Linked DNA regions of Homo sapiens: region 2 is linked to region 1. Evidence: fine-mapped expression QTL. A gene starts in region 1. The other region holds a variant in brackets. All regions are shown on one strand. Distances are between the middles of the regions. Region 1 holds the start of SRCIN1 (SRC kinase signaling inhibitor 1). Region 2 has its middle 82 kb from the start of SRCIN1.

Evidence for each region. PIP is the estimated chance that this variant, and not a neighbour inherited with it, causes the effect.
Region 2: its variant is the best candidate, but not a certain one, in a credible set for the expression of SRCIN1 in esophagus mucosa (GTEx, PIP 0.63).

The regions. Positions count from the first base shown.
Region 1 is chr17:38,600,397-38,612,122 of GRCh38, forward strand. It overlaps SRCIN1 (SRC kinase signaling inhibitor 1), which reads right to left and starts at 5,556. Exons shown (of 19, transcript NM_025248.3): 1 at 5,288-5,556. The coding sequence starts at 5,309. RefSeq lists a silencer at 1-114 and enhancers at 6,416-7,017, 7,018-7,618, 8,762-9,432.
Region 2 is chr17:38,517,676-38,529,401 of GRCh38, forward strand. No RefSeq gene overlaps it. Among named protein-coding and RNA genes, the nearest start is that of SRCIN1, 82 kb to the right of the region's middle. The variant A/G (reference allele first, on the strand shown) is at 6,454.

The sequences.
Region 1 (11,726 bases):
AATGTCCATGACCCCTGCAGGGGGCCTGGGCCCCATCTTCTGTGTGGTAGCTAAGAGGGCCCAGAGAGGCAATGAATGACCTAGTCCTTCTCACTGACCATCTCTGAGGCCCAGGTTTCAGCACACACATCCCCAGAGCCCAGGGGAATGGGCAAAAGCAGGCAGGGGCACAAGGGCAGGACTTGCCATGGGTTGAGCCTGGGAGGTGAAGCCGGAGGAGGAGCTCTGACACCTGGCTAAGCTCCCGGCAGAGGGCTAGCAGGCCCTGGAGGGTGCACAGCCTCAAGCCCCTCTGCCGGCTGCAGTATCAGGCCTCCGTGGGGTTCTGCACACCCCATCCTAGCTAGCCACAGGCAACTTTGGTGAATTCACCCACCACTTGGCTTCTCTGTTTTGACCTTTTGGAGCAGAAGTGCTGAGGGCAGGGGTCCCCTCGACTACAGCCATCCCCCCAACCCTGCCCCCAGCATGGCTGGAACACAGGGGCCAGACTCACCTCCCCAGGGAATGCTCAAGCCCAGCTTTCACCCCTCTGGGAAATCGGAGCAGCAAAAGCATGGGCCAATGGGCAAGGGGAGTTGGAATGGTGGGTGGGACTCTGGGCCGGGTGTGGGCGGCACCCTCCCCCTTCAAGCAGGCACCATTAATATATGCAAAGCATATGCAAATCACCCAGAAGAGAGACACAACACCGCTGGAATGTCACAAGAAACCTTGGAGATCAGCCAGCCCACGCCCCCTCATTTCACAGGTGAGGAAAGAGGCCCGCGCTGGGATGGGACTTGCTCAAGGTCACGCAGACATCTGGGCACTGAGGAAGGATAAGAATGAGCTCTCTTGACTTAGTGCAGTGCTTTTTCCACCAGGGTCTTGTCTTTCTGCTGGGGGGTTTATAACATTGCAAAGGGGCCCCAGGGCGTGGATGGGGCTCCAGGCAGGCCCATCAGAGACATGGGTGGGAGATGGAGCTGAGAGGCTTCTTGGATGCCTCCCTTACCGCCTCTGCACCTGGAGATGGTCTGGTGGGTGTGAGGGGCAGTGCAAGGGCAGCATAGCACCTGGGGGGCCGCGCGGTTGGAGGGGCGGGAGGCTGGAGGTAGGCAAAGAGAAATATGAGGGGCAGGGCAGAAGAGCAGGGAACCTGGGGTGTTTGAGGCAGGGGAGGAAGAGCCCAATGTCAGGGCAAGGTGCCTGCTGTGGTGTGGGGAGGGGGATGGCGCCCTCAACACATACACACACACGCACACACACACACACGCTCGCGCGCACACACACACACACACACATCGCTAAGTGCTCTGCAGCCCTTCCTGGACTCTGACAATTATGGCACCTGACAGACCATAATAGTTAACCCAGGCCCATCCCTTCTGAGGCCACTTCCCCGCCCCCAGCTTGGCTTCTCAACCTTCCAGACAGTCCTCGAAAGCAGGGCCAGAGCTGGGGAAAGGAAGGGGAGGCAGACAATGGGAGGGGTGGTCAGAGGGAGGAAGGGGGAGGCAGAAGAAGAGACGAGGACAGGGTTAGAGAGAGAGACAGCAGGAAGGGCAGCGCAGGAGAAATTGACGAACAGGGAGCGGGAGGGGAGGAATGGGAAGACGGAAAGGCACAGAGGAGAGATGGGGGAGGGGCGAAGACTGAGGGCATCCAGGGGAGTGCTCTGGAGCCCAGGTATCGGGTAGAGGAACCCTGACCCCGAGGTTCTAGGCTGCTTGGCAGGAGTTGGGGACCATGCCCCTGCCCCTCTGCCCACCTCCCCCAGAAACTCCCCTGGCTGCCAGGAACTCAGTCCTCCCTCCTTCACTGCCTCCCTCCCTTCCTCCCTCGGGGCAGGCACTGCTTCCCAGCCAAATCCGAAGCCTTCATCTCCGCTACTCAGAGCTTGGAATGAAAGAAGGGGAAGCGAGTACAGCCCTCAAACCCGCTGACGGCCAGATTTTTATTATCTTTGCTCGAATGGGCCCTAGGAAGCCAGTGAGGGATTCTTCAAAGAGCATCTGAGTGCCTCATTGAAGCCTGCACCTGCACCAGCCCACCCACAGCAGGCAGCCAGGACTTGGGGGGCACAACCTGTCCCCCACCCCCCACAAATCCTAGAGTCCAGAGCCTCAGCTACCAGGAGACTCACCCTCAGCAGCTTGTGCCCAAGCAGGGGTCCCTAGGTCAGGAAACCAGGCTTAAAGCTAGACCTAAGTCTGCTGGGCCTCTGAGGCAGTCTGTGTCCCTCTCTGGGCCTCAAGGACATAAATGAAGAAAGAAAACAGATTTCCTTGCCAGGGCTTGGAGGAGATAAATGCTTGAGATTCCTCGAAAGAGCAGCTTTTATGGCAAGCCCTGGATCCTTCCCCTGAACTCCCTGCCTGCCCAGCACCCACAGGCCCCTTTGCAAGAGCACCCCCCACCACAGCTGCCTCTTCATGTGCCCCAGGCCTGCTACCCAGGATGACAGACGCCATGAACTGTTCTTCCTTGAGCCCCAAACTCAGCTCCCTCAGTTCAAATCCTCAACACTGTCTCCCTTCTTTCCCCAAAACCTAACCTGGGGTGGGGGTGGGGGCTCAACAAACTGGGTACTTCAAAGAGCCCAGCCGCCTCCCTCCTAAGCACTTCCAGGGCTGGGGTTTTGGCAGAGAATTCCAAGGTTGGCATAGGCAGATGGCAGCCATGCCACCCCCACCCTCTAGCTCTGACCACACTGTCGATGCCCACAGCCAAAGAAGGAATCAATGGTTCTAATTAAACCCTTTTTCCAGGGTGGGTCCCTGGCGAGAGAGAGGGAAGAGGGAGAGAGACAGGGAAGGGAGGGGGGAGAGGGGGAGAGAGAGAGAAAGAGAGAGAGAGAGCGCGAGAGTGCATCAGAGAGGCCCTGCATCCCAGTGCCCAACCCAGTATCCTGCACATCTTTAAGACGCCTGGAACCCAGCAGGGATGAGGCCACGAAGACCCCAGACCCTCCGCATTAGGCAAGGAGGCAAGTAGAGGGGCAGGGGAAAGCCTGGGGTGGGGGTAGCTCTTTGAGGGGTTCATTCGAGCGACCCTTCCCCTAGTGGAGCATCCCTCTCCACTCAGCACTCCCCGAGGACCACAGTTGCCTCTTCCAGATAGAGCTCCAGGGCACAGACAGTGGGAGCCAGAAGGGGGATTTGTGCCTCCATCCCAGCCTTGAGGGTCATCACAGAGAACCAGCCATCGTGGAAAGGGCAGAAGAAGCAGGAATTGTTGTGGGGGGACTGGACAAAGACCCTCTTGTCCCCAAGGCAGGGTGGCAGGAAGCCAGGGCAAAGCCTTTGCACTTGCTGCCAGTGGTGCCTGGGTGCCAGGCAGTCTGGGTGGGGACAGCGGGGTGGAGGGGGGGTGCATCTTATTCTTGGAAACCCTCCCCTTATGCCCAGAGCCCTCACCCCATCCCTTGCTTCTACCCCAGGCCACCAGCTAAGTCTCTGTCCCCAGCAACTCTCAGCTTGCCTGGAGCACTCCTTCCTGTGTGAATGTTCCTTCCCATGTCCCTGACACCTGTATGGAGTGGCCCATCACCAACCAGAACCAGCAAAACCCCTCAAATGCACCATAGCTGCTCCCCACATACAACCACACCAGAAACCACCACCATCACAGCTGCCACCAGTGGCGACAGCCTCACAATCTCCATCAAATGCATCATCAATTTTTAAAGATCAACAAGAGGGAAAGGGATGGGAATAAGAGAAACTGAGGCAAGGAATTAGACAGCAAAGCAGTTGGCTCAAGGTCACCCAGACCAAGATACCAAGAGTCGGGAAGAAGGTATCCTGACGACCCCCCAAAAGTGCTCAAACCCCACCCAAAGGAACATTCAGGCCCACAAACCTGGAAGTCTGGTCAGCTTCCCTCACTCCCAAGCCTCACCTGTTTCTCCCTTCCCCAAAACAGACAGCAGCTCCTCCATCTCCTTTTGAAAGGCTGCTGCCAGAAACCCCCACCCCCAGCTCGGGGAGCCCACTTTCCTTAAAGTTGGGGTGCTGCAGGACCTCCTTGTCCCACAACATTTGAGGAGGGGGGCTGGGAAGATCCCCCTCCTTGCATACTTCCCCGCGCCTGCTCACCTGGCTCCCCTCGGCCCCCAGGGTCCCTCGGTCCAGCCTCCTCCCTGGGAGAGCGGGCTCTGCCCTCCGCCGTCCTCTCCCACCAGGCCAGGGCAAAGCGCCGGAGGCACTGCCAGGGCTGCATGGGGACGCGTGGGGCTGGGGGACGAGCACCAGCAGCCGCACACGCCCCGCCGGGCCCTGACAGCTGAGCTGCGGAGGCACCCGGCCTGTCCCCTCTGCTTCCACCAGCATCCTGCTGCCCCCACCGACAGGACTCGGAGCTGGCCCGGGAGCTTCTGACGTAGCAGGGGGGTGCGTGGGAGGGGAGGGGGGGCCACGGTGCGTCCCCTTCCCAGCCCCACCCTCCACCCCTCAGCCGCCTGCCTTCCCTATCTTCTCACTCACCCTAGATGCCCTCCCCAGCTGGGGGCGCCCTCCCCTGCCCCCTGGCCTCTGCAGGGGGAGGGGTTAAGATCAAATAGCCCCTCCCTAAACCCCTCCCTCTCGTGGCCCTCCCTACCCGCTGGTAGAGCGGGGAGCTGGTCCCCAGTTTCTGCAACTGCTGCTGAGGCTCAGAGGTCTCCAGGGCTAGGGCCTCGAGGTGCGGGGAGGGGGGGTGTGTGGAATACAGGCTTGTATCCTGGCAACGCGGCCAACCCCAGAACGCACTCATCCCCTTCCCTCCCTGGAGGCTGGCGCAAAGGGCCCACCACCACCATCCTAGCCCGTGCACCCCATTCTGGGAGCTGGGGGAGGGAGGCCTTTGATGCACCCCTCACTTCTCCATCCCCTTCCCCTCCCCTGCATCCTCCACTTCCCCCACCTCGGAGGGACGCCCTTCTCCCCCCACCCTCCTCACCATCCATCCCCCTTCTTCTCCTCACCCCTCCCCCTTCCACACAAGCCCCTTTACAGTTGAACCCCTCTGGCCCCCACCCCGGGGCGTAGTGAGGCCCTCCCCACCCAGTCTCCTGCCTCGCCACCCTGCCCCCTTCTCTGGTCCCAGCACTCCTCTCGCCCGGGTCCTTCTCCCAAGCCCGGCGCACAGCGGTCCCCTGCCCCCACACACCTGCGCCCCAGCATCCCTCGCCCCGCCGGCCACCGCCTCCCCGGCCCGGCCGCCGCCCCCGCCCCCGGCCGAGGGGGAAAACACACAAAGAAAACAGAAATACCTTCCACTTAAGCATGGAGGCACATTAGGGAGGAGAGAGACAGGGACATGCCTTGGGACGGAGCGTTCCCCATCGGGCGGGGGCGCGGGGGGCGGGGGCCCCGGGCCGGCCTGCCTGGCGCTCGCCCTCTCGCCGCCTCGCGGGCTCCTCGCTCGGCCCCAGCCCCGGGGCGCGGTGCCAGGCGGGCGGGCCGGGGGCGCGGGCCCCGCCGGGGTGGACCAGCTGGGAGGGCGCCGGCGGCCGGGCGTGTGGGTGAGCGCGCGCGCGGGCGTGTCACCGAGTGTGCGAGAGCGAGTGTGTGTGTGTTTGAGTGTGTGTCTGCGCGCGCGCGGGCCGGCGCGGGTGTGTCACTGCGGGCGGGCGCGCGCGCGGCGCGGGCGCGCGCGTGTGGCCGGAACTTACAAAGGGCCGCCCGGGGCGGCGGGGGCGGGGGAGGGGAGGGGGCACTGCGCCTTCTCGCGCCCTCCAGCTTCACCGCGTGATCCCGCAGCGCGCGGCCGGGGCCGGGCGCGGGGCGCGCTCACTCTCTCCTTCCCGCGCCACCTGCTTCGTCCCACCCCAAGTAGTCTTCGCGCCACGATAGAGACAAATACATTGACCGAGGACCGGCTCGGAGGAGGCACCCGGGGAAGCGGGGACACTTGGAGGGTGGAGGACTCCTGGGTCTCCAAGCCCGGGCGCGCCTAGGGATGGAAAGGCTCTCGGGGCTGGGTGGGGAGGCGGGGCGGCGAGACTGGGGGCTCCCTTCAGCCAAGGTGACCGCGGAAACCAACAGCCGCCCCATGCTGGGAGCGCCCGGATCCTCCTCTGCTTCTGCCTCGCGACCCCTCACCCCAGCGCGCCTAGACGCGGCTCGGTCGGAGGGTCTGGGCTCCCCGGCGCCCCCTGCTGGGCCGCCGCCTCGCCCCCGCTCCGGGTTGCAGCCCCTCCTGCAGGCGTGCGCGGGAACTGCAGGCAGGTCCGCGCCCCTCCGGCCAGTGAGACCCCACCGTAGGACGCTCCAGCGACGGTCCCTGCTCACGCCTCGCTTGGCGGCGTCACTGCCGCCTCTACTTCAGCCCGCAGAGCACTAGCTCGGCTCCACCCTGCCGTCCCCCGCCCCTCCGCGTCCCACCTTCGTTGGCCTACCTGTTGGCTCCGCAGACTTCTCCAGCGCTGACCCGGACCCAGACCCAGACCCAGGCCCGCGCCGACACCTCGTGATTCCAGCGGCCCCCTCCCTCCCTCGCTCCGATGCTCTGGCCAGTCCCTTCTCTCTCAAGCTTTCTTGCGGAGGAGAAGGTGGGCTGAGTCCCCTGTCCCTTTTATTTACTTCTGGAGTTTCCAAAAGCAGTTTAGGTGAGCAAGAGAGTGGACACAGTACTTCTATTCACTGTGGGCCATCAGGCAGAGTGGCAGGCAGGCAGAGAGCCCAGGAGAGGAGACCCCACCCCAAGTGGCCCAAATGACAAACCGGTTTCCCCACTTCCTGGTCTACCCAGTTGCAACCTTAATCTGGGCTCTCCCAATTTCCTATCCACCCCCAGGCCTGCCCCTGAGCCAACCACATGCCCAGCTAGGGACAAGGTCCCAGATTCCCCTTAGAGATAAATAACCAATTGCAGTAACTCAGATGCCAGGGCCAGGACCAGAGGAGAGGCCCTTCCCAGCTCCAGTGGGACAGATCAGGAGGACAGCCAAGAGCTGTGTCCTGGACACACAGTCTGGGCACACGACCCCAGCGGCAGGCACCCTGACTTCTTCCCTCCTGGGCCAACTGCCTCTCCCTCTGCCAACTGGATGGTGCCCATCTTTTGGCCTCTGAGCGCACAGTGGGCATCCATCCAGTGCCCTGCCTGGCTGCCTGCCCAGGATGGGCATGGGAGGCAGCAGGCTCTGTGTGGGGGAGGCTCAGGGGAGGCAAGGGTAGCTTCCCCTCAGCACACGGACACCACCTCCCAAGCGGCTGGGAGCCCAGAGCTCTGGCACAGGTCGCTCCTCCGTTCAGATTCCTCACCCACTGACTGCACAGGACTCCTGCCCTTCACCTGCCCCCAACTCAGATTCCCCCCAAGGGACAAGATTTCTTCCCTCCCCCACTTTGTGCCTAAGGGGAAGAAAATTAGCAGGTGCTCTACCATAATCTCTAATTTTACCCTTTCGACAGCCTGATGGAAGTGAGCATTTTCAACCCCCTATCAGAGAGATATAGCCAATTGCCCAATGTAAGAGCAGCAAAGTTGAAATTCAAACCCACATCTGCCTTATGTCAAAGCTCCCTGCCTTTCTTCTATCACCATCATCTCATAACCCTGTGGGTCGCCACAGCAGGGACAACCCCTGGGACACAAAGTCTCATAACCATATAGTCGTTAGAAGAGAACTGAGATCAGGAATGTGGCTGAGAGTTAAGATGTATAGCCATGCCATAATCAGGAAGGAGACAGGGATCTGGTCCTATTGTGGAGAGAGTGACCTGAGGCATTACCTCTAGTTGACAATTGAAAAGATGCTTGTGCCATCATGTGGAGATTTGCCTGCCCAACCCCAGTGGCTTGGGGTGGGGTGGGAAAGGTTCTGTGATGCAGCCCCCAGGGATTGGAACAGTTCCAAAGGTGTCAGCAGAACGAAGCATCCATTTTTACCCGCCCTAAGGTGAGCTCGCTCATCATGAAGGCCACCTCCATAGTGAGGAGCTTAAATCAGATTTATGTAATATTTTTAATTTGTATAGCTCACCTTTTAATGATGAATCCTTAGCATTTCTGATCATCTTCATAGCTATCAGCTCATTTGAGACCCTTCTGCCCTCTCTTCCCCAAAGATGCTTTGTCCACACCCACCCTGCCCAGCTGACTCCATGGGTCTCCTGGAGGGGTGAGAAGGGATACAGCTCCCTGAATAGAACCCAAGGTCCCAAGGCTGAAAGTGGAGCCAGAGGACAGATGGCCTGGCATCATCGCCCCTCATTGACCCCAAGAAAAATACGTGCCTTTCCCTCCTCCCACCAGGTCTCAAAAGGAGGGGTTCCTGGTGGAGAGAGAAGGCTGGGGACACCATCTCCACTGATCAGGGCAAAAGCAACACAGGTATTACTTCAGCTGAGAGATGAGAATTGCTCCTGTAAGCTGGCATGGTGCCCAGGCACAACCAATTTGCCAGCTGCCTCCACCTGAGATGCCTCAGGTGCCGCCCCGCCCCCGCTCTCATTCCTCAACAGGTAACTTCCCTCTGGTCCTCCTCTCCTGTGCCTCTGGCAGTGTATTTGGTGGGGAGGGGGCAGCTGGCATGTTTGGGGCTTGGAACAGCAGATCCTAACCACTCACCTTGCCTCCCCAAACATCCCACCCAGCCCTCACCTGTTCCTGGGAGCTTGCGAGAGAGAGGTTATGGGGGTGCACCCTAGAGGAGAGAATTCTCAGCCCTGCCTCTCCTTCCCCAAGATGCAATAGGAACAGGGGTTGCATCTGGACAAACATCTGGGCAGGCAAAGGGAGATGGGCCTTGGGGTGGGCAGAGAAGGGCATCTGGGCCTCTAGGAGAAGGCACAGGGAAAAGGTGACGTGGAAATAATGGCTGGGACACCCCAAACTGGTCACTCTGCTGCTTTGGAGCACCCCCAGCCCAGTATCCTTGAGAAAGCCCCCGGTCCATGGGGCTGTTGTCTGGCCAGGCATTTCATGAGACCCCAAGGAACCATCCACATTCCACTAAGGGTGGCCTGCAGACAGTGAGGGCCTGGGGACCTGGTCCTATTCTGGGTCAAGTAACCAGGGGCAGTGACCTAGCACCTGGGGCACAAGAGGGGTGGGGGAGGAGCCAAGGAGGAGGAGGGTGCTTCCCGCTGCCCCAGGCCTGCTTCTGGGGCTTTCTGAACACAGCCTGGTCTCCCAGAGCCCCTAAGCCTCCCTTCTCACATTCCTCACCCTCCTGCTCCTCCTCCCACTCCATAGGAGAGGAGTGAGTGGCAGTAAATTTCTAAAGACCCTCCCCGCTTCCCTGCTTGTTATTGTAATGAATGCTAATGATGCTCCCTAACTGATGCCCTCATTAGCACATCAAACCCGCTTTCTGAAGAATGGAGACAGAAAGTGGAGGCAGGTTCTCTGGGGTCGGAGCCGTAGCCAGCCTCCTCCAGAGAACCTTATCCCGTTGCTTCTGGCAGGGAGGGACCAGCGTAGGGGCTTGGAGTGAAAAGCCGAGGTGTTCCCCTCCCAGTGGGAATTTCCTGAGCACAAGGCTGTCTTCCCTGTCAGATGGCAAGGGTTCCATCTGTCCCATCAGACTGGGAGCTCCTTGAGTCAGGCACCTTGCCCCCCTCATTAAGCCAGGGCTCCCCCTGTGGTAGGGCAGTGGCTCTGAAAGTAATTGGAAAAGCCCAGTTGCCTGGAGGGCATGTTAAACCAGCGATTGCTCCCCTCCCCTCAAGGTCTCAGATTCAACAGATTTGAGGAGGGGCCTGAGAATTCGCATTTCTTTTTTCTTTTCTTTTCTCTTTTTTTTTGAGATAGAATCTCACTCTGTCACCCAGGCTGGAGTTCAGTGGCTCGATCTCGGCTCACTGCAACCTCTGCCTCCCGGGCTGAAGCGATTCTCCTGCCTCAGTCTCCCGAGTAGCTGGGATTATAGGCACCCACCACAATGCCCAGCTAATTTTTGTATTTTTAGTAGAGACCGGGTTTCACCATGTTGGCCAGGCTGGTCTCGAACTCCTGACCTCAGGTGATCCACCCGCCTCAGCATCCCAAAGTGCTGGGATTATAGGCGTGAGCCACCGTGCCCGGCCCCACCCTGACAATTCTTTTTTTTTTTTTGAGATGGAGTTTCACTTTTGTTGCCCAAACTGGAGACCGGAACTGGATCCCTGATCCCCTGCTGTGTGCCAGGTCCATGCTCGGTGCTGCTGATGCCAGTGGATCTCCTTTCTCTGTAGGAGGGGAGAATAACCGCAAGGGAGAGGGTTCCTAGCACCCACCTCACTCTGGGTGACCTCCCAGGGCCTAAGTGGGGAGAGGGGCTTGTGGCTACAGTCCATAAGCATGCCTGCAGCTCCCCACCTCCTCCCTTCCCACTTGGTCCCTTAGGCATAAGAATTGTCGGGATGGGGCCGGATGCGGTGCTCACCCCTGTAATCCCAGCACTTTGGGAAGCCCAGGCAGGCGGATCACCTGAGGTCAGAAGTTCGAGACCAGACCGGCTAATATGGTGAAACCCTGTTTCTACTAAAAATACAAAAAATTAGTTGGGCATGGTGTCAGGTGCCTGTAATCCCAACTACTTGGGAGGCTGAGGCAGGAGAATCACTTGAACCTGGGAGGCAGAGGTTGCAGTGAGCTGAGATCGCGCCATTGCACTCCAGCTTGGGCAACAAAAGTGAAACTCCATCTCAAAAAAAAAAAAAAAAAGGAATTGTCGGGGTGGGGCCGGGCGAGGTGGCTCATGCTAGGCGAGGTGGCTCACGCTGTAATCCCAGCACTTTGGGAGGCCAAGGCAGGTGGATCACCTGAGGTCAGGAGTTGAGACCAGCCTGGTCAACATGGAGAAACGCCATCTCTACTAAAAATACAAATATTAGCCGGGCGTGGTGGCACGCGCCTGTAAGCCTAGCTACTCGGGAGGCTGAGGCACGAGAATCACTTGAACTCAGGAGGCGGAGGTTACAGTGAGCCGAGATCACACCACTGCACTCCAGCCTGGGTGACAGAGCAAGACTTTTTCTCAAAAAACAAACAAACAAAAAAGAATTGCCCGGGTGGGTGGGTGAGTGAACTGCAACCTTAGTGCTCTAGTTGGGGGAGGAGGGAGACAGGAGACTGGAGCTGGAGTGAAGAGATGGAGGGTGAGGGGAGGGGGCAAACAGAATTGGGATGAAGAGAAGATGAGAGGTGGAGAAAAACAGAAGAAAAGGGAAGAAGAGGGGAAGCAGGAGGGAGGGAGGGGAGGAAAGAGAGAAGAAGAGAGGGAGGGATGTATGGAGAGATGGAAAGAGTGAAAGAAGGCCTTTGACAGGGAAAGGGAAAAGACAAGAAAGATGAGGCCAGGGCAGGGAGGAGGAGAAGGAAGGTACAGTCTGTATCTGTCCTTAACAGGACATATTATGAGCCACTGAGGCCCAGGTAGACCACAAGCCCAACTCCTGCAGGGCCACACCCAGCTTGACTTTAAGGCTCTAGATTTCACCATCTGATTCACATGTCTTGGGGAAAAAAATGGAAGACTCCTTCCACCTCCAGCTAGCTGCCTTCCCAGGCCTGCCAACCAGCCTTAGAAGACTGTGGTAGAAGGTGCAGGGCATGGAGCCGGTACTATCCTGATCCGTTTTACCCCTGCTAGCACCTAGTAACCATCTCCTTGCCTTCCAAGGTTATAGCAATCCCCTAGTTAATGATGAAAGTAGGAAGAACTCTCGTGCATTGCTGATGGGAATGTGAAATGGTTCAGCAGCTATGGAAAGCAGTTTGGCAGTTCTTTAAACATAGAATGACCCTATGATCCAACAGCCCAAATGTCC
Region 2 (11,726 bases), 83 kb before region 1:
CGGAGTCTCACTCTGTTGCCCAGGCTGGAGTGCAGTGGCACGATCTCCGCTCACTGCAAGCTCCGCCTCCGGGGTTCACGCCATTCTCCTGCCTCAGCCTCCCGAGTAGCTGGGACTACAGGTGCCCGCCACCATGTCCGGCTAATTTTTCGTATTTTTAGTAGAGACGAGGTTTCACCGTGTTAGCCAGGATGGTCTCGATCTCCTGACCTCGTGATCCGCCCACCTTGGCCTCCCAAACTGCTGAGATTACAAGCTTGAGCCACTGCGCCCGGCCCCCACTTTCAATAACGGATAAAACAACGAGGCAGAAGATCAACAAGGAAGTAGAAGCCTTGAACAACACTGTAAGCCAAGACCTGAAAGACATCGAAACACTCCACACAGCAGCAGAACACACATTGTTCTCAGCTACGCGTGACACACTCTTCAGGGTAGACTTATACTAGGCCTTAAAACAAGCCTCAATAAATGGAAAAGGATTGAAATTACATAAAGTCTGTTCCCCAACTGCAATGGAATTAAATTAGAAAATGACAACCAAGGAAATTAACAAATACGTAGAATTTTTTTTTTTTTTTCGAGGCGGGTCTTGCTCTGTCCTCCAGGCTGGAGTGCAGTGGTGCTATCTCGGCTCACTGCAGCCTCCGCCTCCTGGGTTCACGTGATTCTCCTGCCTCAGCCTCTCAAGTAGCTGGGACTGCAGGAGTGTATCACCATGCCCGGCTAATTTTTGTATTTTTAATAGAGACAGGGTTTCACCATGTTGGCCAGGCTGGTCTCGAACTCCTGACCTCCAGTGATCTGCCTGCCTTGGCCTCCTAAAGTGCTGGGATTACAGGCATGAGGCACCACGCCTGGCTAGAAATATGTAGAAATTTAAAAACACTCCTAAATAATCAATGAGTGAAAGATGAAATCACAGGGAAATTAGAAAATATGTTGAGATGAATGGAAACTAACACACAACATAACATAACTTACTGGATGCAGCTAAAGCAGTGCTTAGAGAGACATTTGTAACTATGTCAATATTAGAAAAGAAGAAAGATTTCTAATTAATAACCTAAACTTCCACCTTAAGAAACTAGAAAAAGAAGAGCAAACTCAACCAAAAGAAAGCCAAAGGAAGGAAATAATAAAGGTAAGAGTAAAAATAAATGGAATAGAAAATAGAAAAAATAGAGAAAGTCAGTAAAACCAAAAGTTTTTTCTTGGAAAAGATCAACAAATTGGCAACTGTTTAGCTAGACTGACCAAGAAAAAAAAAAGAGAAGACTCAGATTAATACCTCAGGCATGAAAAGGGAGCTATCAATACTTATAAAAAGTAAAGGGGGGCTGGGTGCAGTGGCTCTCGCCTGTAATTCCAGCACTGTGGGAGGCCGAGGCGGGTGGATCATTTGAGGTCAAGAGTTCAAGACCAGCCTGGCCAACATGTGAAACCCTGTCTCTACTAAAAATAAAAAAATTAGCCAGGCGTGGTGGCGGGCGCCTGTAATCCCACCTACTCAGGAGGCTGAGGCAGGAGAATCACTTGAACTTGGGAGGCAGAGGTTGCAGTGAGCTGGGATCGTGTAACTGCGCTCCGCCTAGAAGACAGAACAAGAGTCCATCTCCACACACACACACACACACACACACAAAAGTAAAGGGATAATAAGGGAACACTGTGAACAACTGCATGCCAGCAAGTTAGATAAATAGAAGAAATGAAAAAATTCCTAGAAAGACATAAATTACCAAAACTGACATAAGAAGGAGAACTCATAAATAATCTGAACAGACTTACAACATGGAAAAAGATTGAATTAGTCATTTAAAAACTTTCAACAAAGAAAATTCCAGACCCAGATGGCTTCACTGGTGATTTCTATCAAATATTTAAAGAAAAATTAATACAAATCCCTCACAAACTCTTTCAAAAAAAGAAGAGGAAGCAACCGTGAGGCCAGTATTACCCTGATACCAAAGCTAGAAAAAGATATCACAAGAAAACTACAGACTAATATCCCTTGTGACTATAGAAACAAAAGTCCTCCACAAGCTACCAGCAAACCGGTTGGGTGTGACAACTCACACCTGTAATCCCAGAACTTTGGGAGGCCGAGGCAGGCAGATCACATGTGGCCAGGAGTTGGAGACCAGCCTGGCCAACATAGCAAAACCCTATCTCTACTATTAATAAAAATACAAAAATTAGCTGGGTGTGGTGGCACACACCTGTAATCCCAGCTACTCTGGTGGCTAAGGCACAAGAATTGCCTGAACCCAGGAGGCAGAGATTGCAGTGAGCTGAGATCACGCCACTGCACTCCAGCATGGAAGAGAGAGCGAGACTCTGTCTCAAAACAACAACAACAAAAAGATACAAGCAAAACAAATCAAGAAACGTATACAAAGGATTATACACCATGACCAAGTGGGATTTATCCCAGGAATACAAGGTTGGTTTAATATTTGAAAATCAATCGATGAAACACACAAAATTGAGAGAATAAAGAATAAAAATTACATGATCATCTCAATAGATGCTGAAAAAGCAAGACAAAATTCAACACTCTTTTATGATTATAAAATTCAATAAACTAGGAATAGAAGGAAACTTCCTCAACCTGATAAACATACCTATGAAAAATCTGTAGCTAGGCCAGGCAGGGTGGCTCATGCCTATAATCCTGGCACTTTGGGAGGTTGAAGTGGGTGGCTTGCTTGAGCCCAGGAGTTTAAGACCAGCCTGGGCAACATGGTGAAAGCCCGTCTCTACAAAAAATACAAAAACTAGCCAGGCGTGGTGGTTCATACCTGTAGTCCCAGCTACTTGGGAGGCTGAAGTAGGAGGATTGCTTGAGCACAGGAGATCAAGGCTGCAGTGAGCCATGATTGAGCTACTGCACTCCAGCCAGGGTGACAGAGGGAGACGCTGTCTAAAAAAAAAAAAAAACTACAGCTAATATCGTATTTCATGCTATTAAATTAATAGACTGAGAGCTTTCCCTCTAAGATCAGGAAACAGACAAGATGTCCACTCTTACCACTTCTAGTCAACATTCTACTGGGAGTTTTAGCCCAGGCAATTAGGCAAGAAAAAGAAATAAAAGCCATCCACAAATAGAGATGTAAAACTGTCTCTATTTGCAGATGACATGAGATTGTATGTAGAAAATTCTAAGGAATCCATGAAATAGGAAACTCCAAGGGGCCTCAAATAGTGAAAACAAAATTTAAAACAAAGTAGCAGTACTTACACTTCCCAATATCAAAACTTACTACAAAGCTGCAGTAATCTCAACAGTGTGGTACTGGCATAAGGCTAGATATATAGACCTATGGAAAAGAATTAAGAATCCAGAAATAAACCCAAACATTTATGGTCAACAGATACATATATTTTTTACATCCATGATACACACTGGATGTCAATTTGACACTTGACAACGTTACCAAGACCATTCAATGGGGCAAATGATAATCTTTTCTAAAAAAATGGTGCTGGAGGCTGGGTGCAGTGGCTCACGCCTGTAATCCCAGCATGCTGGGAGGCCAAGGTGGACGGATCACAAGGTCAGGAGATCGAGACCATCCTGGCTAACATGGTGAAACCCCGTCTCTACTAAAAATATAAAAAATTAGCTGGGTGTGGTGGCGGGCGGCTGTAGTCCCAGCTACTCGGGAGGCTGAGGCAGGAGAATGGTGTGAACCTGGGAGACGGAGGTTAGTGAGCTGAGATTGCACCACTGCACTCCAGCCTGGGCGATAGAGCAAGACTCCATCTCAAAAAAAAAAAAAAAAAAAAGGTGCTGGGACAACTGGATAACCACATGCACAGGAATGAAATTGGACCACTATCTCACTCTGTCTACAAAAATTAACTCAAAATAGATCATAGACTTTAAAATAAAATCTAAAACTCTTAGAAAAAAAAATAAGGTAAATCTTCATGGCCTTGAATGTGACAATGGATTCTTAGATTTGGCACCAAAAGCATGAACAATGGAAGAAAAAACAGAAAAATCTAAAACTTCTGTATGTCACGAGACATCATCAAGAATGTGAGAAGAGGCCAGGCCGGTGGCTCACGCCTGTAATCCCAGCACTTTGGGAGGCTGAGGTAGGTGGATCCCTTGAGCCCGGGAGTTCGAGACCAGCCTGGCCAACATGGTGAAACCCCATCTCTACTAAAAATACAAAAATTAGCCGGGTGTGGTGGCAGGTCCTGTAATCTCAGCGCTTTCAGACGCCGAGTTCAAGACCACTCTGGGCAATATAGCAGGACCCCCTTTCTACCAAAAAAATGTTTTTCTCTTTTTTTTTTTCTTTTTTGAGATGGAGTCTCACCCTGTTGCCTAGGCTGGAGTGCAGTGGCACGATCTCAGTTCCTTGCAACCTTCACCTCCTGGGCTAGAGTGATTCTCCTGCCCCAGCCTCCCAAGTAGCTGGGATTACAGGCGCCCACCACCACGCCTTGCTAATTTTTATATTTTTAGTAGAGACGGGGTTTCACCATGTTGGCCAGGCTGGTCTCAAACTCCTGACCTCAAGTGGTCTGCCCACCTCAGCCTCCCAAAGTGCTAGGATTATAGGCATGAGCCACCATGCGCAGGCAAAAAAAAATTTTTAATTAGCGAGGTATGGTGGTGTATGCCTGTAGTCCCAGCTACTTGGGAGGCTGAGGTGTGAGGATCTTCTAGCTGCGACACCAAAAGCACAAGCTATAAAAGAAAAAAAATTGATAGATTGGACTTCATAAAAATTAAAAACTGTGTGTGTCAAAGGATACTATTAGGAAAGTGAAAAGACAACCAATCATTGGATGGAAGAAAAAAAGTGTGTGTGTGTGTGTGTGTGTTTTTTCCTGAGACAGGGACTCACTCTGTGGCTCCAGTTGGAATGCAGCAGTATGATCATGGCTCACCATAACCTCGACCTCCTGGGCTCAAGTGATCCTCCTGAGCTGGGATTATAGGCATGCACCACCACACCCGGTGGGAGAAAACATTTGCAAATCATATATTTGACAAGGGACTCATATCTAGAATATATAAAGAACAATAAAATTCAACAATAAAAAGACAACCCAATTTGGATAAAAATAAGCAAAGGATCTGAAGACATTTATCCAAAGAAGATATGCCAATAGCTATTATATACTTGAAAATATTTTCTTTTTTTTTTTTTTGAGATGGAGTCTCGCTCTGTTACCCAGGCTGGAGTGCAGTGGTTCACCGCAAGCTCCGCCTCCCGGGTTCACGCCATTCTCCTGCCTCAGCCTCCCGAGTAGCTGGGACTACAGGCGCCCGCCACCATGCTCGGCTAATTTTTTTGTATTTTTGGTAGAGATGGGGTTTCACTGTTAGCCAGGATGGTCTCGATCTCCTGACCTCGTGATCCGCCTGCCTCAGCCTCCCAAAGTGCTGGGATTACAGGCATAAGCCACCGCTCCCGGCCAAGATTTTCAACATCAGTAGTCATCATGGGAATACAAATCAAAACCATAAGCTACCTCTTCATACACATTAGGGTGGCTGCAGTAAAAAAACAGACAATAACAAGTGTTGAATGTGGAGAAATTAGAATGCTTATTACATGGCTGGTGGGGCAGCCACTTTGGAAAACAGTTTGGCAGCTCCTCAAAATGTTAAACCTAGAGTTATTGTAAAACCCAGCAATTCTATTCCTTAGGATATACTCAAGAGAGCTGAAACATATGTCAACACACAAAAAAAAACTTGTACACAAATGTTCATGTACTGACAACCTAAATATCCATCAACTGATGAATGGATAAGTAAAATATGATATATCCATACAAGAGAAAATTATTCAGTCTGGGCGCGGTGACTCATGCCTGTAATCCCAGCACTTTGGAAGGCCAAAGTGGGTGGATCACTTGAGGTCAAAAGTTCAAGACCAGCCTGACCAACATGGTGAAACCCCTTCTCCACTAAAAATACAAAAGTTAGCCGGGCATGCTGGCACACACTTGTAGTCCCAGCTACAAGTCCCGACTTGCAGTCGGGAGGGTGAGATAGGAGACTCGCTTGAGCCTGGGAGGCAGAGGTTGCAGTGAGCCGAGATCATGCCATTGCACTCCAGCCTAGGCATCAGAGAGAGACTCTGTCTCAAAAAAAAAAAAAAAGAAAAAAAGAAAAAAAAAAGAATGAAATACTGAGGTAGGAGGTGGGACTCGACTCCAGAGTCAGTTCTTGGACACTGGACCAAATTGAGAACTAGCTAAAACAAAGATGGAGTGGAAGCAGGTCTCCATAAGACACACCTACCAGTGCAGCATTTCAGTTTACCATTGCCACGGCAACAGCCAGAAATTACCACCCCTTTCCATGGCAACGACCCAATGACCCAAAAGTTACCAAAATTTTCCTACAAATTTCTGCACAATCTACCCCTTAATTTGCATACAATTAAAAGTGGGTATAACTATGAGTGCAGACCC[A/G]CCTCTGAGCTGCTACTCTGAGCACAAGGCCTGTGGGGTAGCCCCGCTCCACAAGGAACAGCACCTCTGCTGCTGTGCACTGTCGCTTCAATAAAAGCTGCTGTCTAACACCACCGGCTCACCCTTGAATTATTTCCCGGACAAAACCAAGAATCCTCCTCTGCTAAACCCCAATTTGGGGGCTTGTCTGCCCTGCATCAGTACTGATACATGCTACAACATAGATGAATTTTGGAAACATGTAGAAAGAAGATTGTCACAAAAGACGACATGTTGTATAACTCCATTTGTGGGAAGTGTCTGCAATGGGAAATCCATACAGATAGAAAGTAAATTACTAATTCCCTAGGGCTGTGGGTCGGGGTGAGGAGGTAGGTGGCAGAGAGGAGGGTGCAGGAATGGGGAATGACTGTCAAGTGGTCAGGGTTCGGGGAGTTGAAATAATCTAAAGTTCGATTGTGGTGATGGTCACACATATCTGTGAATATACTAAAAATCACTGAACTGTAGACTTTAAAAGGGTGCATTTTGTGGTATGTGAAATAAATCTCAATAAAGCCGTGTAACAGGCCAAGCATGGTGACTCACGTCTGTAATCCCAGCACTTTGGAAGGTGGAAGTGGGAGGATCACTTGAGCCCAGTAGTTTGAGACCAGCCTGGGCAATATACTGAGACCTGGGCTGTACAAAAAACTAAAATTGACCAGGCATGGTTGCACATACCTGTAGTCCTAGCTACTCTGGAGGCTGAAGTGGGAGGTCTGCTTGAATCCAGGAGGTCGAGGCTGCAGTGAGCCGAGATAGTACTACTGCATTCTAACCCTGGTGACAGAACAAGACCCTGTCTTGAACAAATAAATAAATAAATAAATAAATAAATAATTTAAAAAAGCCATAACAGGTCGGTCGTGGTAGCTCGTGCCTGTAATCCCAGCACTTTGGGAGGCTGAGTTGGGCAAATCACTTGAGGTCAGGAGTTTAAGACCAGCCTGGCCCACATGGTGAAACCTCGTCTCTACTAAAAATACAAAAATTAGCTGGGCGTGGTGGTACCTGCCTCTAGTCCCAGTTACTCAGGAGGCTAAGGCGGGAAAATCGCTTGAATCCAGGAGGCGGAGGTTGCAGTGAGCTGAGATTGTGCCACTGCACTCCAGCCTGGGCAACAGAGTGAGACTCTGTAAAAAAAAAAAAAAAAAAAAAGAAAAGAAAAAAAAAGCAGCCATACAAACAATAACAAACTGTACTCTAAAACTTGCTCTAGGCCAGGCTTGCTGGCTCACGCCTGTAATCCCAACACTCTGGGAGACTAAGGCAGGAGGATCACTTGAGTCTAGCAGTTCAAAATAAGCCTTGGTAACTCTGTCTCTGCAAAAATTGAAAAATTAGCCAGGGGTTGTGACTTGCACCTGTAGTCCCAGCTACTCAGGAGGCTGAGGCCAGAGGATCCCTTGTGCCCAGGAGTTTGAGGTTGCAGTGTGTTATGATGGCGCCACTGCACTCCAGTGTGGGTGACAGAGCAAGACCTTGTCTCAAAAAAATAAAATAGGATAAATAAAATACAGTAAAACTTGCTCTGCCTATCCAGTGGGGGTTTTTTTTTTTGGAGATGGAGTTTCGTTTTTGTTGCCCAGACTGGAGTGCAGTGGCGTGATCTCAGCTCACTGCAACCTCCGCCTTCCAGTTTCAAGCGATTCTCCTGCCTCAGCCTCCCGAGTAGCCGGTACTACAGGCATGCGCCACCACACCCAGCTAATTTTTTGTATTTGTAGTAGAGACGGGGTTTCACCATGTTGGCCAGGATGGTCTCGATCTCTTGACCTCGTGATCCGCCCGCCTTGGCCTCCCAAAGTGCTGGGATTACAGGCATGAGCCACTGTGCCTGGCTTCCAGTGGGGTTTGATATATTTCATAGGAAACTTTTTTTTTTTTCTTTTTTTTAGACAGAGTCTTGCTCTGTCACCCAGGCTGGAGTGCAGTGGTGCAATCTCGGCTCACTGCAACCTCCGCCTCCCGGGTTCAAGCAATTCTCTTGCCTCAGCCTCCTGAGTAGCTGGGATTACAGGCGCCCGCCACCACGCCCAGCTAATTTTTGTATTTTTAGTAGAGACGGGGTTTCACCATGTTGGTCAGGCTGGTCTCGAACCCCTGACCTCGTGATCCACCTGCCTCGGCCTCCCAAAGTGCTGGGATTACAGGCGTGAGCCACTGCGCCCGGCAGGAAACATTTCTTTGGGAAAACTCCAAATCTATGAGGGCTTAGGTGAAAGGAATAGAGATTTTTCCCTGCCCTTCTAGTATGGACATGGAGAGGCAGCATGATTGTCACCCTGAACTAAAACACAGGCTGAGATTTTGAGTGAAGATTTCTGGAACGATGACAAAGGGGAGGGGATGGAGGGATCCCCCTGCCAGGTGTGCCATTATGAGTGGTATCAGCCAGTCAGCACCAGTGAGCTTCGAGGAAGCCTGTTCTCAGTTAAGGGGCACAGATGCCACTAGCCCCAGGCCCCCATCCTGTGGATCGTGCTCTGTCACTCTGAGCTCAGGGACCACTTAAGCCACTCAATGATCAAACAGTCAGAAAATGCCCAGGGGGGCCAAGAGAGGATGTGCAGACAGTGAAGGAGAGAAGCCGAGGGCTTCCCCGACCACTACACGTCAAGTAGCGCCTGCCTCCTCTCCATCAGGAACCTGAGCTCTGAAGGCAGTCAGATCGCGCTCAAATCTTGGCCAGAGTCAACCTTCCCCACTGATAGCACAGAGGTAATAATATCTATTGTCTGGGTTGTTAGAAGATTAACGAACTCTCCATAAATGGTAGCAATTAGTATTATAAAACATTAATAAAGCATGGCTATTGGGAGGGATAAGTTCCGGTTTTTCTTTTTTTTTTTTCTTTTGAGACGGAGTCTCACTCTGTCACCCAGGCTGGAGTGCAGTGGCGCGATCTCGGCTCACTGCAAGCTCCGCCTCCCGGGTTCATGCCATTCTCCTGCCTCAGCCTCCCGAGTAGCTGGAACTACAGGCGCCCGCCACCACGCCCGGCTAATTTTTTTGTATTTTCAGTAGAGACAGGGTTTCACTGTGTTAGCCAGGATGGTCTCGATCTCCTGACCTCGTGATCTGCCCGCTTCTGCCTCCCAAAGTGCTGGGATTACAGGCATGAGCCACCGCGCCAGGCCTATTTTTCATTTTTGAGACAGGGCTGGGGACTGGCTTTCTGTAATCTCAAGGGTTGCTGGGCTTTGGTGGGTGGGTGACTCACGGAGGGGCATTCCCTGCAGACAGTAGGCAGTATTGTATTTGAGACAGGGTGTCCCTCGGTCACCCACACTGGAGTGCAGTGATGCCATCATAGCTCACTGAAACTTCAAACTCCTGGCCTCAAGCAATCCTCCCACCTCAGCCTCCCCAGTAGCTGGAACCGCAGGTGCATGCCACTCTGATTAACTTTTTTTTTTTTTTTTTTTTTGAGACAGAGTCTCATTCTTGTCGCCCAGGCTGGAGTGCAATGCCATGATCTTGGCTCACTGCAACCTCTGCCTCCCGGGTTCAAGTGATTCTCCTGCCTCAGCCTCCCCAGTAGCTGGGATTACAGGTGCCTGCCACCACACCCAGCTAATTTTTGTATTTTTAGTAGAGACCGGGTTTCACCATGTTGGCCAGGCTGGTCTCGAACTCCTGACCTTGTAATCTGCCCGCCTCAGCCTCCCTAAGTGCTGGGATTACAGGCGTGAGCCACCACGTCCAGCCCACTCTGAGACAACTTCTGAAACAACATGTCAGTTCATGACACTTTCTTACTTTAAACCCTCCTATTGTTTTCCATGGCACCTTCCTTACCACAGCCCATAAGGCCTCACATGAGGGGGCTTCTGCCCACCACGCTGCACTTTCCCCTCCTCACTCTTCTTGGATTTCCTTCATTTTCCAGAACCCACTGGTTACGTCCCACCCAGGGCCTTGTGCCTGGGACCCTCAGCCACCAGCGCCCCCAAAGCCCACTCCTCACCCACCCACAAGGTCTCCTCTCAAATGTGACTGACCCTGCTACTCCCCGCCACATCTGCCACTGTGCCTCTTTTTTGTGTTCTCCCAGCACCTGCCTTGGTTGAGCTCGGGTGTCTGTGTTCTGTCTGCTGGCTGTCCTGGCAGCTCTCCCGCCAGACAGAGCCCCAGCCCCAAGGAGTGGACGAGCAGCGCCTCACAGGGAGTGCATCCTGGATAGGCATCTGGCGGGTGAATGAGTGCCTGCCTCCTTCCAGGCGTGCAGCGGATGGTTCCGTTTGTTACTTGATCTTGAACTGTCATGAGTGCAGTGATTCTGGGAGAGGGGGTTTTTTGGCTCCTCTCCCAGTTTTTGGGGAATAGGATGGCAGAGAGAAGGCAAGATCTGCCGACATTCTAAAAAGGACATAGGGATGGGCTACGGGCAGGCTGAGGACTGGCTTTCTGTGAGTCTCAAGGGTTGCTGGGCTTTGGTGGGTGGGTGACTCATGGAGGGGCATTCCCTGCAGACAGTAGGCAGGTTGCTGCCCTCTGTCTCCAAAGAGGTCTTTAAGAGAAGGAAGCGCAACTGGGGCCCCTGTGATGACTGGAAGATTGTGGCTCCAGGACACAGTCACTACCTTCAGGGATGGAAGTGAAGTGATGCTGAGGGGGGAGAAGAGATTCAGTAACATGCCAGCCCTCAGCCACGCAGAACAGCTGGAAGGCTGCCTCGGGGACTCTTAGAACATGCTGGAACAGTGGCACAGCCTTCAGAATTCCGGGAAAGCCTGTAAAACCCAATCAGGACCCATGGCATACACCATGGTGCTCTGTGTAGCAGGTGCTGCTTTGCTGTGGCTGTTTGTGCATATGTGTGTACATACCTAAAGCATAGAGGTGTCAAATGCATTTTGTATTGTTACCACTTTACGGGTTTGAAAGCTGCTGCATCTAGAAAAGATGTTTGTGGCCGGGCTCGGTGGTTCACGCCTGTAATCCCAGCACTTTGGAAGGCCGAGGTGGGCAGATCACTTGAGCTCAGGAGTTCGAGACCAGCCTGGGCAACATGGCGAAACCTCATCTCTACAAAAAATACAAAAAAATGTAGCCAGGTGTGGTGGCAGGCACCTGTAGTCCCAGCTACTTGGGAGGCTGAGATGGGACAATTACCTGAGCCCAGGGAAGTTGAGGCTATAGTGAGCTGTAATCATGCACTCCAGCCTGGGTGACAGAGGGAGACCCCGTCTAAAAAAAAGAAAAGAAAGAAAAGATGGGTGGACCCC